Homo sapiens: one gene and its partner. The protein of the gene in region 2 interacts with the protein of the main gene of each other region in a pairwise test. Each region holds a gene or a part of one and is shown on either strand. Other genes may lie near its edges.

Region 1 (7,641 bases), on a different chromosome or scaffold from region 2:
TAAACCAATTTGTCTATTGAAAAAGTATCCAACAGTTATTTATCCACATCACACAGTAAATGCTACAGAATTTCTTTACAGTGGCAAAGCAATGAGAAAGCCGGACTTTCAAAGCCCTTCACATAATGTCTAGAGATTATCACTTTACTTATAAGATGAATCCAAAAGGTAGTCAACAGCAGAACAAAGCTGAGGCATGCCATAAACCCGAGTTTAGAATGTAATTAAAACCCATAGCTATCACACGTTTTTGGATTTAATAGCTTTCTAAGTCAAATACCTGACAAAAAGTATTTGCAAAGAATTTTCTGTGTCACAGAAACAATAGAATGTCTGTCTATATGTTGATCTGGGTGAGTGGTGAGCAAGACAAGAAATTTTAGGATTCTAGGATCTCAAGGAGAGGATCGCAAGCCCCTGGAAACTCATCATCTTCCTATGTGCTCACAGAATGCTTCCTGCTTCCCTAAAAACTGCCTCTGTATCCTCTCCTCCCTTCTCCCCCCGCTTCTTTTTCCCTTCTTTCCTTGCCTCCTTTCCTTCTCCTGCTGCTCTTCTTCCTGTTTCTTCTCCTCCATCTTCTCCTTTCCTTTATTTTTCTTACCCATGAGTCCATCTCACAGAGTAAATCATAATCTTCCCATTTCCATGCCGTTTCACTGATGTCAAAAACCACCCCTTATATTCCCAAGCCTTACTAATCCTCAGTTTGCTCAGATTTCTGTCCAGGCTAGAACATTCTTCACTCAGCAGCCTATGCTGAACTGAAATGGCCTGTAGTTGCTACCATTCCACCATTTTCACTTGCACCTCTGGGTTCCCTCCTTCCTGGTGTTGTGGCCTTGTGTCTTGACAAATATCCTGAGGATCCAGTGACAAGAGCTATGGATTTTACAGCATACTTTCATCTAAAGCGGTATTTTTTTCCTCTTACCATAGTACTGACCTTGAGGCATTCAATATCTTCTCTACATTGTACTTGCACAGAAATCCTAATAACAGCTTCTTAATTGAGTTCCGGAACATAGTTAGCATTATTTGGGATAAACATTCTAATTGTGTTGTACTCTCCTTGTAACAAATAAACTATAAATTTTCCTGATTACTAATAAAAAGAAGAAAGAGGGAAAAAATTCATTTGTGGATAAATGCTCTTATGAAATGCTTTGCGGTGGCAATTGGGAATCAGGAAGGGAGGAGAGACACAACTTTCATGCCCTTTTTAAAGGTAGCATTCTAAAACTCATTGCCAATGATAGTTGAAACAAGAAAGAAAAAAGTATTGGAGGAAAAATGCTTGATCCTTCCTTCTGAGCTAGGAAGTCTTAGAAGTTACATATAAAGTTTAGAGGTTGAGTGTAGCTTTTTACCCTGGCTGGAAAAAAAATGCCTATAATTTCTCCAGTTCAAGACACTGATAGTCAGAACATGGTCTATTTGAGTATAAATTAAGTCTCAAAATAATTCTTAGTACCACTGCAATATCCCTCAAACAAGAAGGTCTGCATTGATGTATATGTTTTATACTCATGTACATATGATAAGCACAAACACACATCAATTATTCCATTAAAGTCATTATGCTGCCCCAGAATATATCCCTTGCTTCCTGTATGCCCCATCCATACATCCATTTTCTGTATGGAATGGGTCTTCAAATCAGCTGACATTTAATTGCATCACCCCTTTGCTTTTTGAGGAAGCTAAACATTATTGATTTATTTAAAAAATAACCCTGCCTCCCCAGTTTTGCTGCTAAATCATCATGCACATAAGTAATCTAAGTGGATTGCAGGAAACATTAGGACTGGCAATTGGTGTTGCCAGCTACCAAAGCCACAGCATGGTCAGAGGCTAGGGAAAGCTAATGCAGCAAAATTGCCTATTGCCTCTATGTAATCATCACCCCAAAGGAAAAGCACAGCTTCTTCATCAATCTCCAAACCACAAATAAGCTGAAAGTGAAATGACCTGCCAGAATTCCTCATTGGTGCCTTTTATTGTCCATGATATTAAATTAACTAGACAGTACATGACATTACAAGATAGAACAAGCCTCTTGAACTGTAATTCACAGTGACTTTAAGAGTTGATGACTATGGGTATATGATGGTCACTAAGGAAATATCTCCCATGAGCCCTAGCATTAACAGGAGCATCTCCAGATACAGAGACATCATTAACATCATTTATCTTCACTGAATAGACAGAGTACATGACTTTCACCTTCAGAACATCTGCTACTCATGTAAATGCAGAAAACTTGTTCAAGTATTTCAGGATGCCAAGTGACCCACATATTTTCTCTTAACAAGAGTTCATCTTGTGTTCTTAGCTTATGATTTTTATTGAATTATTGATATTTCCCTCTGGACATTTTCCAAGCAAAACAAGAGACTGTATTTCATTTGTCTCTGTTTCCAGATATCCCAAGGGGAAACTAGATCATAATAAATACTGAGTGTATGCTAGCTGAAAACATTGACGAATGGAACTTTGATTCTCAATATTAAGTAAAGTATACTATATGTAGTAGGTTAAAAAAATAAAGAAAAAAAAGAAGCTTGTTAGATTTAATTACATTTGGTGCATAGAGGAGTTGCCAAAATGCAAACATGGTTTCATTGAATTATCTTGGCCACACAAATCAACTCATTTGATTATATTTTGGAGCAGAGATGCAATAACAACCATTTAACTACTGATTTGTAGTTTCAATGTGGATCCTTCTATAATGATGTTAAACCAGAGAGTGACTGTAGTTCAAATAGGGTGTCAACCTCAGTATGTATTTAAACTATGATAACCTCCACAATTTGGAAACCTCTGACCTGGGTTATACAAGCAAGGGAACTTTAAGAACATAAGCAATGGGATCATTGTATCACTTTTATTAATAAAGAATGGTTATTATTCAGTAATATCAAAAATGTTATCTATCAATTACTCCCAACTCATTTTATTTGCTCCAGTGACAGAAAACTACTCTCCCTCTACCACACCTCCCCTTTCAGTTGTCTTATTTATTGTAATTTGAGTCAAGTGACCAGAGGATCTTCAATAAGTATTATTTATTTACACAGGCTGAGACTAAGGCCTATCTGCTTAAAACAGATTCTCACAGAAGGTAGGAGGCTCAGTACAAGATATAATCAACTATAATTGTAAGGCCTTCCTAAAGTAATCTTTTATTCAAATATTTATTAAGCATCTACCATGTACCATGCATTCTGCTATGAGCGGAGGATACAGACAAGTTTTCTGATTTCGTAAGAGGAAGAAAACAGACAACAGTCAAGTAAGAAATTAGAAGTACCACAGAATAAGTGCTGTGGTACATACCCGTTGGGATTCATTGATAACTATTCACAATCAGTGTTTTTCTTTTTTCAAGCATCAATGACAGGAAAGAATCAACATCAGCCTCAGCATCAGTTTAACATACTACTTACCACCACAATTACATTTGCTGCTGGGATTGGGAGATTTTCCACTTCAAGATCTTGACCATCCATGGCCAGCAGATTGAGAGACGGGTCATATGCGGGTCTAGGAAATGCTGAATTGACAATCTGGTGGCGTTTGCTTACTTGAGCTTCGGAAGAGGAATGGTAGCTATGTCTGTAGATTTTTTGTGGGGCTATATCCAGGCTCTTCTCAATGTCTTGTGAATGCTTATAAATGAATACCGGCTTCCCACTCTTCTTCTGATTAATTGCCAAAAAATGATCATTGTTTCCTGAAAAGCACCCTGAAAGAGGGAAGAAGCAGAAACAATATCAAAGACCCTATTCAGTAAGAGAGGTAGATATATCTGATGAAGAGGATTACCCTTTCTTGAGAGGCTTTAAGACTTGTGAAGGATTTAGGTTAGTCTCCATATTTCTTTGTCTGCTTCATGATCCTCAACAAATAGTATACACCTGGTGGTATGAAGGCCTCTCAAAGACTTTAGGTGGATAAAAGTGGGCGTACTTTGAAAAAGTTCTATTTTTCAGATATTCTGATGCCACTTTTACTAAGAAATTTCCTCCTTTATCTACACCCATAGTTTCAATACCTACTTGGGCTTCTATTCCTGGATGTCCTATCTGCTGCTGAAATTATAAATATTTTTATCATATTTAAGCTTTCCTTAAATATAAGCATTTCCTACAATTCTTATTTCATACTTATTGCTTGTATTACAATGAACAGTTTTCTTCACGCTTACAGAGTATTTAAGCTCTCTGAGGTAAGAAATCTGAGTGTACTTATTGTGGTAGCAACTTTCAGTAGTCCAAACAATATCCATCGTCTCCTTACTTGTGTAAGTAATATGGCCATCTAGATAGAGACTACATTTCTCTCAGTCTTCCCTGCAACTAAGCATTGCCATTTGATCAAGTTATAGCTATTGGAATGTGAGTAAACAGATGTTAGCAGAGATGTGATATGGCCTTCCTTTCTACATTTCCTCTTTTGTGCTGGCTGAAATGCAGAGAGTCTGGTAGGAGCATGAGGTAGAAACCATGTGTCAAAGATGGTAGAGCACTAAGACAAAATATTCTGATCCCTGATGAAAGTGAAACTACCATACCAACCTCACAGTTCCCACTCTGATTTTTAGAGAGAAAAACAATATTCTATTGTTTTACCTGCTATTATTTTAAGTATCTTTGTTAGAGCAATTGAATTTATTTAGTAACAAATACATTCATCTTTATTTCTTCTGTTAGATAAATATTCATTGCATTGAATAATGGCTTCTCCTGTTTGCTACTGGCCACAGGAGGAAACAGATAATACATATGAATCAAAAAGAATATTACTAGGTCAAATACCAGTTAGAAAAGCAAACATGAGATCTGTTTTATAACATAGTCCCTAGCAATGGTACCCCAGATTTTCACTGGAAATGCTTGTGGTAACAAGTGCTGTCCTTAGAAAATTACTTACCTCTTTTTACAAGAATTCTTCTCCAATCTCCTACTATTTTTATCTTTTACTTCCCAAATCATGCAAGCGTCTGTACTTTATTTTGTTTTTCTTGCAAATTTCAGCTATTTACATGCCCAAATTCAATAGAATTATCATGGCAGATCTAGTACTCATGCTACTGGGCATTTAAATTTCTCTATTTTCTCTTAGGTGAGAGACCCACGTTCATTTATGCATACAATATACCTTTCCCAAAGCACAGAATCACCTCTACATCAGTGGTATTAGAAAAGTAAACCAGGATGAAAGTAGTATATTATTTTATTTCTTAACCCCAAAGGAATCACTTCATTGTAGTGATATCAGATAGTTTTTCAGAGGGAAAGAAGAAAATTACTCTCCTTTCAGAAATGTAGAAACTCTTCTAGGACACTACAATATTATTTAGTAAATTATTTTTAGTAAAATAATAAATACACACCTTGTGGTCAGAAAGTTCATATACATCTAAAACATTTTGGCACCATTTTCCATTGATAAAACAGTGGTAAGAACAACAACATTGAGATATCCTGTTCTGAATTCCATTATACTACATATGTTCTTAATGAGAGTTTCATTTCCAAATCCGAGGAACTCATTTAATATGGAGAAATAAAATGTACAATTATTTAAGGGTCATCATTGTCCAATCATCATCTTTGGCAAACTATGGGTGGCTTGATTGTTTTAAAAAAGTTATGGTCAATTTAGCATGCTCGGAACTGAAGACATGATGATTAGTTTCCATTACTATTTCAGGATCCACATAAAATATAATTCAAGTGGTCCAAAAAGATAAAGCTACTGGTAACAGAAGATGATTCTCATACTATTATATCGTGGAATAAAGCACTTGGGCTAAGAAAATAACCCATCTTTATAACCCCACATGAAAGTTGAAGGGATACGGGTGAAACAGAGTTGCTGAAGATGTAAGACGTATATGTTGGTCACACAAGGCTTGATGGAAAGCAAAGCCTGTAAAAACTAGCAATTCCTCTACTCTGGATTCTCTATAAATAGTAAATAAAAAGAAAAAAGCAGCTTAGAAGATTGGGGAAAGTAGATATCTTAAAAGAGGAGAAATAACTGACAAACTGAGTAAATTACACAAATATCTTCAATCTTTCTTTTTATATATTATCAATCACACCAAGTCTTTTCAGAGCCACTTTATCTAAATAGAAAAGTCCAGTTAATAAATGCATGCTAAAATTGGCCTACCGAGAAAGGGACAAAATCTAAGTTGAAGCGCAATTGAAACACAATGAAAATTTTCCAACCTTATCCACTTGTCTGTGTGAATGAACTTAGTCCTGCCTTGTTCCTGAGTAATGAGTTCTAAGATAGCAGTGTAATATTAGGTGTCCTACCACAATCATTAGGTAAGAAAAAAAATTTCATAGTGCTGTCCTTAGGTTCTCTGTATCAGAGCTACCCGGGACATGATGATACAGTTTCTTAGACCCCAGACTAGAACTACCAAAGCATAATCTCTATAGATGTAGCCTAGGAATCTGGATTTATAATAGAATTCTTATGTTCAAACTCTGATGTTTGAGGACCACTGACCTAATGTCTGGAATTGGTTTTGTATTTTCTATCCTCAAATGCTACCTATTTCCTCCTTCACTTCAGCTTTATGAATATACTCAAGTAAAAATTTTGGAAAAGTGAAGACTGAGAAGCCAAGTTATCTATTAGTGAAGCCGTAATTCTAAAGCAGCCAACAATCATAGCTCTTTTCCCTCTCTCTCCTATCAATACCTGACCCTGGACTCAGATGCAGGTGTAGAAGCGCAAGAAACTCACTTCAAATATAATGATATGGACACATTTAAAGTGAAAGAGTGAAAAGCAACATATCATGAAAACCTAATCAAAAGAAACCTGGAGTGACTATATTAATATCAATTCAGCACAAAGAAATTCCCAAGGATAAAGAGGGACATTACATAATGATGGACATATGATGCAATGTACATAAGAATACATAATATTCCTAAATATATATGCATCAAAAATGAGCTTAAAATTCATGGAGCAAAGCTGACAAAAATGAAAGGAGAAATGGGAAAATTCACAATTATCATTGAAGATTTTAACTGTTCCCTCTCAATAGTAAGTAGATTGAGGAGAAAGAAAAGAAGCAAAGGCAAGGTTGTAAAAGAACACCACCATCAACCAACTGGATTTAATAGGTGTTTATAGAACACACAACCCAAAACACCAGAATACACAATCTTTTCACGTTCTTATGGGGTATTCATCTAGACAGATCATATACTGGGCCATAAAATAACACATGTTGAAAACTGAAATTATACAAGGTATACTCTTTGACCATGAAGGAATTAAACTAGGAATCAGTAACAGAAAGAAAAGAAGAATATTTCCAAAATTTGGAAATTAAAAAAACACATTTCTAAATATCCATGGGCCAAAGAGAAAGTCACAAGACAAATTAGAACATATTTTGAACTGAACTAAAATAAAAATATAACATATCCTGAATGGTATTGCCTAGGTTTTCTTCTAGGGTTTTTACGGTTTTAGGTCTAACATGTAAGTCTTTAATCCATCTTGAATTAATTTTTGTATCAGGTGTAAGGAAGGGATCCAGTTTCAGCTTTCTACATATGGCTAGCCAGTTTTCCCAGCACCATTTATTAAATAGGG
Region 2 (7,641 bases):
GTACTATGTGAGCTATTTTTCCCGATGTGCTGCTGATTCATAAGGCTTTTTTAAAAACAGCAAAAGCCTCCAACTGCTACACATTCTCCCTTATATACCTCTGAAGATGGGAGTAGTGGCAGGTACCTGCAGGCCTAGCTATTTAGAAAGCCCATTCAACTCTGCTTTAGGCCAACTAAAACTGAGCATAAATACATACATATCCCTTACTTGCTGGTTCTGGAGAAATGTTTCAGTGTTTTAATACTTCCTTATAACATTAATTCCAACTTTTTACTAGAACCTGGAGTCTGAGCCAGCTTAACTGTGTTAGGGCTTTGGAACTTGACTGGAACATCATGAAATAAAACACAAATGTCTGGCTGTTGAATGTTCAAAGACTTACCAGACACAATAACCAATCATTCATTATGAAAAATAATTTCAATACTGTCATAATATAAAACAAATCCTTTAATTTTTCAAGTGTTTAAAAAACAATTTTATACTTAAGCCAGCCTTGAAGATAAGCACAAAATTTACCAGTTTACATTTAAAAAACAAACAAAAAACGACAACAACTCAAGCACCCGCTCTGTGCATAGCACTATTCTAGGTGCAATAAAAGGGAATCTTAACCTTAGAAATATGAGTTCACTTTCTGGAATTGTATTATCTCCTTTTCCAGAGAGTAAAAATAAATAAAATCACCATTGTTTACTACAGATCTGCCCCAAACCACATCTGGTTCACAGAAAGGCTAATTTCTGCCAAATTAAAGATGTAATGAACTCAGTTCCTGCTTTCCCAAAAACACGAAAGCAGAATTCCTTTTCACTGAAAAAAATAAACAGTTTTCCATGCAAGGGCAGTTTGCTTCTAATAAGTATTTTTAAAAAAATTTTTTTTTCCTCTAGCTTTTCTTTAAATTTTCTTCCTCTAATATTGCCTTTTCTTGTACAAGGCAGACCAGGTATCTTTTTATGCTGTTTTTCCTTTACTAAGAAAAGTATTGCATCTTGAAGACAAACCATTTCCCAGAGTAGTGATAAAAAATAACACTAAAAAAACTTTAAAGGTGAGTCACTTACATCACCTTGATGAAGTAAAAAAATAAAAAGCAGTTGGCACTAAGATAGCTAATTCCAAATATCTGTGTCTAAACAATTTTAAAAACTGTTTATTTATTTTGTAAGAATGTACCCCTAGTCCAAAGTAAGTATGTTTTAAAAAATTTTGGCCAAAAAATTTACAAAAACCCTTTCAGTTCAACCTAATAAAAGTGATATCTAGAAAATATGCCACATTATTAAGTCTGTCTTAAAAAGTTCAGATTCTAAAGCATTTCTAAGGCACGGTGTTCTGGAAGACAAATGTGCTTCTGTTGGCGTTGTGTTAGATACAAAGCATCCCTGACAGGCTTCAAGTGAGCCCCGACAGGCACCTTCTTCCTGATGGTGTGGGATTGGAGAGGAGTCAGACGTAGGCCCCCAGGGCTGCATGAAACTCTGTTAGGCACTGTACCAGCTGCTGAAACTTGGGCCTCTCCTCTGGATCTAAGGCCCAGCAACAGGCCATCACAGCAAATCTGCAGAGTGACAAAAATGAAAATTTGGGCTAGTAAGGATACAGTATTCATAACTTTTGCTCAGTTTGATGCCAGTTATGTTGCCTGTCTAAAGGTGGGTATGGAGAGGATGATATATTAAAAACGGATCCATTTTACTATCTGTTGGCAGCTCTAGAAAGAAGCTAAAAGAAATTATTTGGATTATGTGTGAATTTCAATTCTTCATGACAACATATCAAAATATTTCAGCAAATACAGAGATTTCATGTAAAAACCTAAAACACAGTAAAAAAAGAATGTGTGTTTTCCTGTAGTTAAATTAAGAAAAGAACTTGGAGGAAGAGAAAGTTTTATCTAAGTTCTATGAACCCTGGATCTAGAGTAAAATCAGTACAAAAGCTGCCACCTTGTCATGGTGCAGAAACCTTCAGGAGGTTCTGGAACTGAGAATATACTCATCTGTACGATCAATCACCCTGCATAGCCTCCTGTTTATCCCATTCTCATTACATGGCAAGATAAGCTATGTGATAGAAGCAGGAAACAGAAAGCAACTATTTGGCTTACTAGTCCAGATCATCTTCCCTGTATTAGCTGATACTAACTGGCAAGGCAAAATGACAACGAGAGAGGTTTTTTATAACTACTATGTCCTTTATAACTACTTTATAACTATAAAAGTCAGATACTCACTTTATATAGAATAACTGACGTAGCATTCAATTTTCTTAGTACGTCCTCTCAGACTAATTTATAGTGCTTAGATTATGCACTATAAAATAAAATGCAAGACGTTCTAATATCAAATGCATGAAAGAGTGAACGAATCTCCCTGACTTTGTGGTTTTTTATAAGAGTCTAATTTAAATCCAAAGAGTCATTATTCTCAAAAGGGAAGGCTCTGTGTGAATATGGAAACCTGCTCTTTTTCCTTTATTCCAATATAGTAAATGGAATAAAACTCATGCCTTCAAGCTCAAAAAAACTCACAATTCATCAGGACAGTTGATTGGCTGGGCTATTCGGTAACCATCTTTCAGGTATGCGGCCATCTCGAAGGGGTCAATGTCCACGTAGGGAGTCTGGCCCAGAGTCATGAGTTCCCACAGCGTCACTCCAAAGGCCCACTAGTAAAGGAGCAGAAGCACAATGAGGGGACATTTAAAACAACAGTCAGGGGGCTAGCGCCCACAGCCAGCTACAGGACAAAAAATAACAGCTCAACTCATGCTTTGGAAAAGCGAAATGTTATTTACAAAAAAATGTCTATCATACACAGTTAGTTTCCCTTGCTAAGATAAAAAAGAGTGCATCCAATATTAGTATTATAAATTCTAAGTAATTAGATCCATTGGAAGTAATAGTTTACTGTTGATTACAAGCTACGTATTATGAATTATGTCCAAGATTCTTCTAATATGAGAATTTGTAACTTTAAATATTATAGCTAGTCTGCATAATTGAGAAGTGGAAAATGAACAGAATTTTAGTTTAATTAAAGGGAAGAGCATCCTAAGTGAAATACGCAAATGAGGGGAAATATAAGAAGTCATGGATTTTTACTGTATTTAAAGTTTTAAATTAAAGGATTAAAAAAACTTCCAACCTTGCTTGAGTAAGCAATCAGGTTTATTTAAAATCAGCAGGTAAACTACAGAAAGGAACAGGAATAGTAAACAGTGGCAACAGTGTCCATTCATGGTCCGTTCGGGGCTCTCCATTTTGGCCAATTCCTGGCTGTACTTGGCTCCTGGAGAGCGTGCAGGGGGCGGGGGGCAGGCAACGTCTCTACACAGAGCTGCTGCCACATGGCTGGGAAGGACTCAGATCCGGTACATCCACTGATCTGCCGCCAAGTGTGAACCCTGAGGTCAGAACAACTGAACTTGGATGAGGAGGGGGATACCTGTGTACTGTAGTATCAGGTTTATGAGTACCTACAAATTCAAATCATTTTGCATCCTTCAATACATTTAATTTCCTCAATAAACCTGTGAGAATCATTGGTAGCTCAATTTTACAGGTGAGAAAACTGAGGCTCAGAGAAATAGCTTGCCCCAAAATACATATTTTAATGAGTAAAAGAGAAAAAAGTGAAAAAAAGAAAAGGAAAAAAGAGAAATACCAAACGCAAGTCAAATACAAGTCTGTTTGTAAAATCTAAACATGTTGCATTAAATTTTAGGTTATTATTTTTCAATAACAACAAAATCCCAAAATACTTTGTAAAATACACAGATTTTTTTAAAAGCCTTATAATAGTGAACAATAGCTACATTTCCCCCCAGAATCTATGCAAACAAGAAAACAATGAAATGACATATTTTAAAATATTTTAGGGCCAGGCACGGTGGCTCACACCTGTAATCCCAGCACTTTGGGAGGATTATCTGAGGTCAGGAGTTCAAGATCAGCCATGACCAACATAGAGAAACCCCATCTCTACTAAAAATACAAAATTATCTGGGCATGGTGGCGCATGCCTGTAATCCCAGCTACTCGGGAGGCTGAAGCAGGAGAATCGCTTAAACCCGGGAGGCGGAGGTTGCGGTGAGCCGAGATCGCGCCACTGCACTCCAGCCTGGGCAACAAAGCGAGACTCTGTCTCAAAGAAAGAAAAAAAAATTAAAAACTGTCATGGAAAGTTCTATATAGAGCCAAAATATACTTCAACAATGAAGATAAATACAGAGTTTTTCAGACAAATAAAAGCAGAGAGACTATGTTTCCAGCAGACCTGTAAGATGTATGAAAGCAGTTCTTCATGTGGAAAGAAAATATACCACATGGAAATCTGAGTCAACACAAAGAATACAGAGTGCTGAAAATATATTAGTAACAACTGAACATATTCTCTTATGTTAAAATTTCCTTGACAGACTATTTAAAGCAAAAACAGCTAACAATATATCGTGGGGTTTATAATATACAGAGAAGTAAAAGGTATGCCCACAACCAGTTTGAAGACTGGAAGGGGATGAATGGAAACACTATATTAAACATGAAATGATATAATATTTTTGGAAAATAGAAGGTTTACACTATAAAGCCTAGAGTAGGTTTTTTAACCTCAGCACTACTGATATTGTGGGCTGGAGGATTCTTTGCTGTGAGAAGCTGTCCTGTGCATTGTAGGATGTTTAGCATTCTCCCTGGGCTCTACCCACTAGATGATAGTAGCACATCCTCCAAGCTGTGACAACCCAAAATGCCTCCGGACATAGCCAAATGTCCCTTGGCACAGACAAATGTCCTTAGCCAGAGCAAAACTGTCCCAGTTAAGAACCACTGTGTTAGACTGAACAACAACAAAAAATTTAAAATATCAGAAATAAAGGAGGGAACACCATCCTTTAAGACATCAAAAAATATTATGAACAATCCAATTTTATGCCAATAAATTCAGCAACTTAAATGAAATAAACAAATTTCTTAAAATACAAATTACCAAAACAGACACAGGAGTAAACAGAACATCTATATAGCCCTACATCTATTAAAGATACTGAATTCACAATTCAAAACCTTTCCACAAAGAAAACTCAACACTGTTTGGTGAATTCTATCAAACTTGAAAGAAAATATAAATCTGTATTAGTTTTCTAGGGCTACCATAATAACATACCACAAACGAGTAGTTTAAACAACAGAAATTTATTGTCCCACTGCTCTGATAGCTAGAAGTCCAAATCAATGTGTCAGCGTGGCTGTGCTTCCCCGGAAACCTGTAGGGGGAATCTTTCCTTGCCTATTCCCAGCTTCCTGTGGTTGCCGGAAGCCCCTGGTGTGTCTTGGTTTGCAGCTGCAGCCCTGCAGTCCCTGCCTCTATCTTCACGTGACATTTTCTCCTCATGTGTGTGTCTCTTTTCTTAGGGTGGATTAGAGCTCATACTCATTGAGTATGACCTCATCTTAACGTTACATCTGCAATGACCCTATTTCCAAATAAGGTCACATTCTGAGGTACTGGGGGTTAGGGCTTCAACCATTTTTTTTTTTTTTTTGGTGGAGACGCAGGACACAATTCAACCCATTACACACCCAACCCTACGTAAACTTTCAGAACACAGAGGAAGGAATATATCTCATTCACTTTGACAGCAGCATTACCCTAAATACCAAAAACAGGTGGTCAGCCTTTTGGAACCTATTATCTTTTTCATTAACAGTGATCATTAACATGGAGCAAAGTCCAGCCTTGAAGTCTATGCTCTGGGAGGAGGGGGCAGGCGACAGATGGAGAAGCGTGTATAGTTTCAAAATCTCCACAGAGTCTTGGAGGCTACTGAAATTTCCCTTACACCTACTGGGACATTCTATTCTGCTTAAAAATGGAAAAATGATTTCAAATTAATAAAAGTTAAAGGATGGTGCCTGCTCACAACTAGTTATTTGCCTATCTTTAAAACCTTACTGTATATGAAACTTTTTTCTGAGAAGCAACAAGATCTACATGAAATCTTAATACTGACAGTCATTAGTAAATGCAATGCTTTATTTTTAAAATCGTGTCCAATTTCCATAGAGAAGGTAGTTCCCTGCACAGATGGAACAGAGCCCAAAGAAATGAAACTGGTCGGAAGGGTGCTCCCATCCCTTCCTCCAGAGATGAAATGATCCATTCAAACTAGATTTTGGAAGAAGAAACCATGGGAATTGGTGACAAGTGCATCCTGACTCTTTGTACACAGGGAATAACCCCATCCACTGACATTATAACACCTTCTGACTTTAAGGGACTTTGATATTAAAGTTGGTGGTATTTGAGATCTGGAGTTGAATGTAAGTATTACAGCAGCAATGTAGATAAGCTTTTAAAAATTACTCCCTTCCCACTGTTTTGTTCACATTACTGCCCAACATTTACCTAAGGTTTTCATATTACAACTACAACACTAAAAGACGCCATAAAAAAGAACAGTCAAGCCAAAGGGAACAATGCAGTTTCATTTCCTTAAAAACTAACAAAAGTGATTAATTACATGTTGGCAAACCAACCCTTAAAAAAATAATCAAGACAAAATGGCGCAGAGATGATTTGTGGAAAACTTGCTCTCTAAGGTCTTCCGATAACTGAACCATTTAAAATTTAGACAGACTTATTCTATAATTTCCTTCTGTTTGACGTCGGTGGAAAGGGGGCAATAAGAAGGTCATGCTGTTCTTTCCAGAGTTTTACGAAAGATTGTGGCTATCTCCATTTAAAGAACATTTAGATAATTATAATGTTATTCTATTCATCTTATTCCTCTCCCCAGAACATGTTATTTTACAGCTTCTATATATAAGATGTAAAACAGTTTTTCCACTAAAACATATATGAATGTGACTTGTCAAAAAGTATGTAAGTAAAATTCCTTTTTTCTTTTAGTGCAGCATTAACTAAAGATGGAGCTACTGAATTAAGACATTTCCAGTGATTACTTCAGGAACTTACAATGCAAGGCTCACTTCAGTAAACTATAAACTGAAAGGAAAATAATTCCATTCAATTGTAAATTATCTTATCTGACCACAGTGGAAGCATCATCAGGTGGTCCATGGCTAGGCCTTTCTGTTCATATTAGAAACCTAATATCCCTTTCTCACATAAAGACATGGCTGCAGATTACCAAAGTGCAATTAAATGAACCTGGGTTAAGTGTTTTATAAGAAGGAGAAGAATTATCTGGGGTGCTTGCTAAAAAGTCCAGTTCCTCTGTCCTATCTTAATAATTCTGAAGCCTGGATCACATTATTTTATTTAATTAATTATTTATTTGCATTTTTAGCAGAAATGGGGTTTTACCATGTTGGCCAGGCTGGTCTCGAACTCCTGGTTTCAAGTGATCCACCAGCCGTGGCCTCCCAAAGTGCTGGAATTATAGGCATGAGCCACCATGACAGGCCTGGATCACATCCCTTTAAACAAAAGTCCTTGGTGGGTCTTAAGATTGGGTAAATTTAGCAAGTAGTCCTAGATTTGTTAGCTGCAGTGATCAGACAGTAAAGACAGTTTTCATTTATTTTTATTGTAGTACAGCTGACACATAAGAAATTGCACATAAAGTATTCCACTGGATAAGTTCTGATATACATAAACACTCCTGAAA

The links.
Region 1: the proteins of RYK (region 2) and PTPRR interact in a two-hybrid assay, tested with the Homo sapiens proteins (one study listed by BioGRID and IntAct).

What each region holds. Positions count from the first base shown.
Region 1 is NC_000012.12:70,889,227-70,896,867, forward strand, and holds part of PTPRR (receptor-type tyrosine-protein phosphatase R isoform 1 precursor), read right to left. Parts: intron 3,752-7,641; coding exon 3,453-3,751; intron 1-3,452. UniProt on the Homo sapiens protein: Sequesters mitogen-activated protein kinases (MAPKs) such as MAPK1, MAPK3 and MAPK14 in the cytoplasm in an inactive form.
Region 2 is NC_000003.12:134,156,698-134,164,338, forward strand, and holds the end of RYK (tyrosine-protein kinase RYK isoform 2 precursor), read right to left. Parts: intron 2,677-7,641; coding exon 2,540-2,676; intron 1,568-2,539; coding exon 1,456-1,567; 3' UTR 436-1,455; downstream 1-435. UniProt on the Homo sapiens protein: May be a coreceptor along with FZD8 of Wnt proteins, such as WNT1, WNT3, WNT3A and WNT5A. Involved in neuron differentiation, axon guidance, corpus callosum establishment and neurite outgrowth.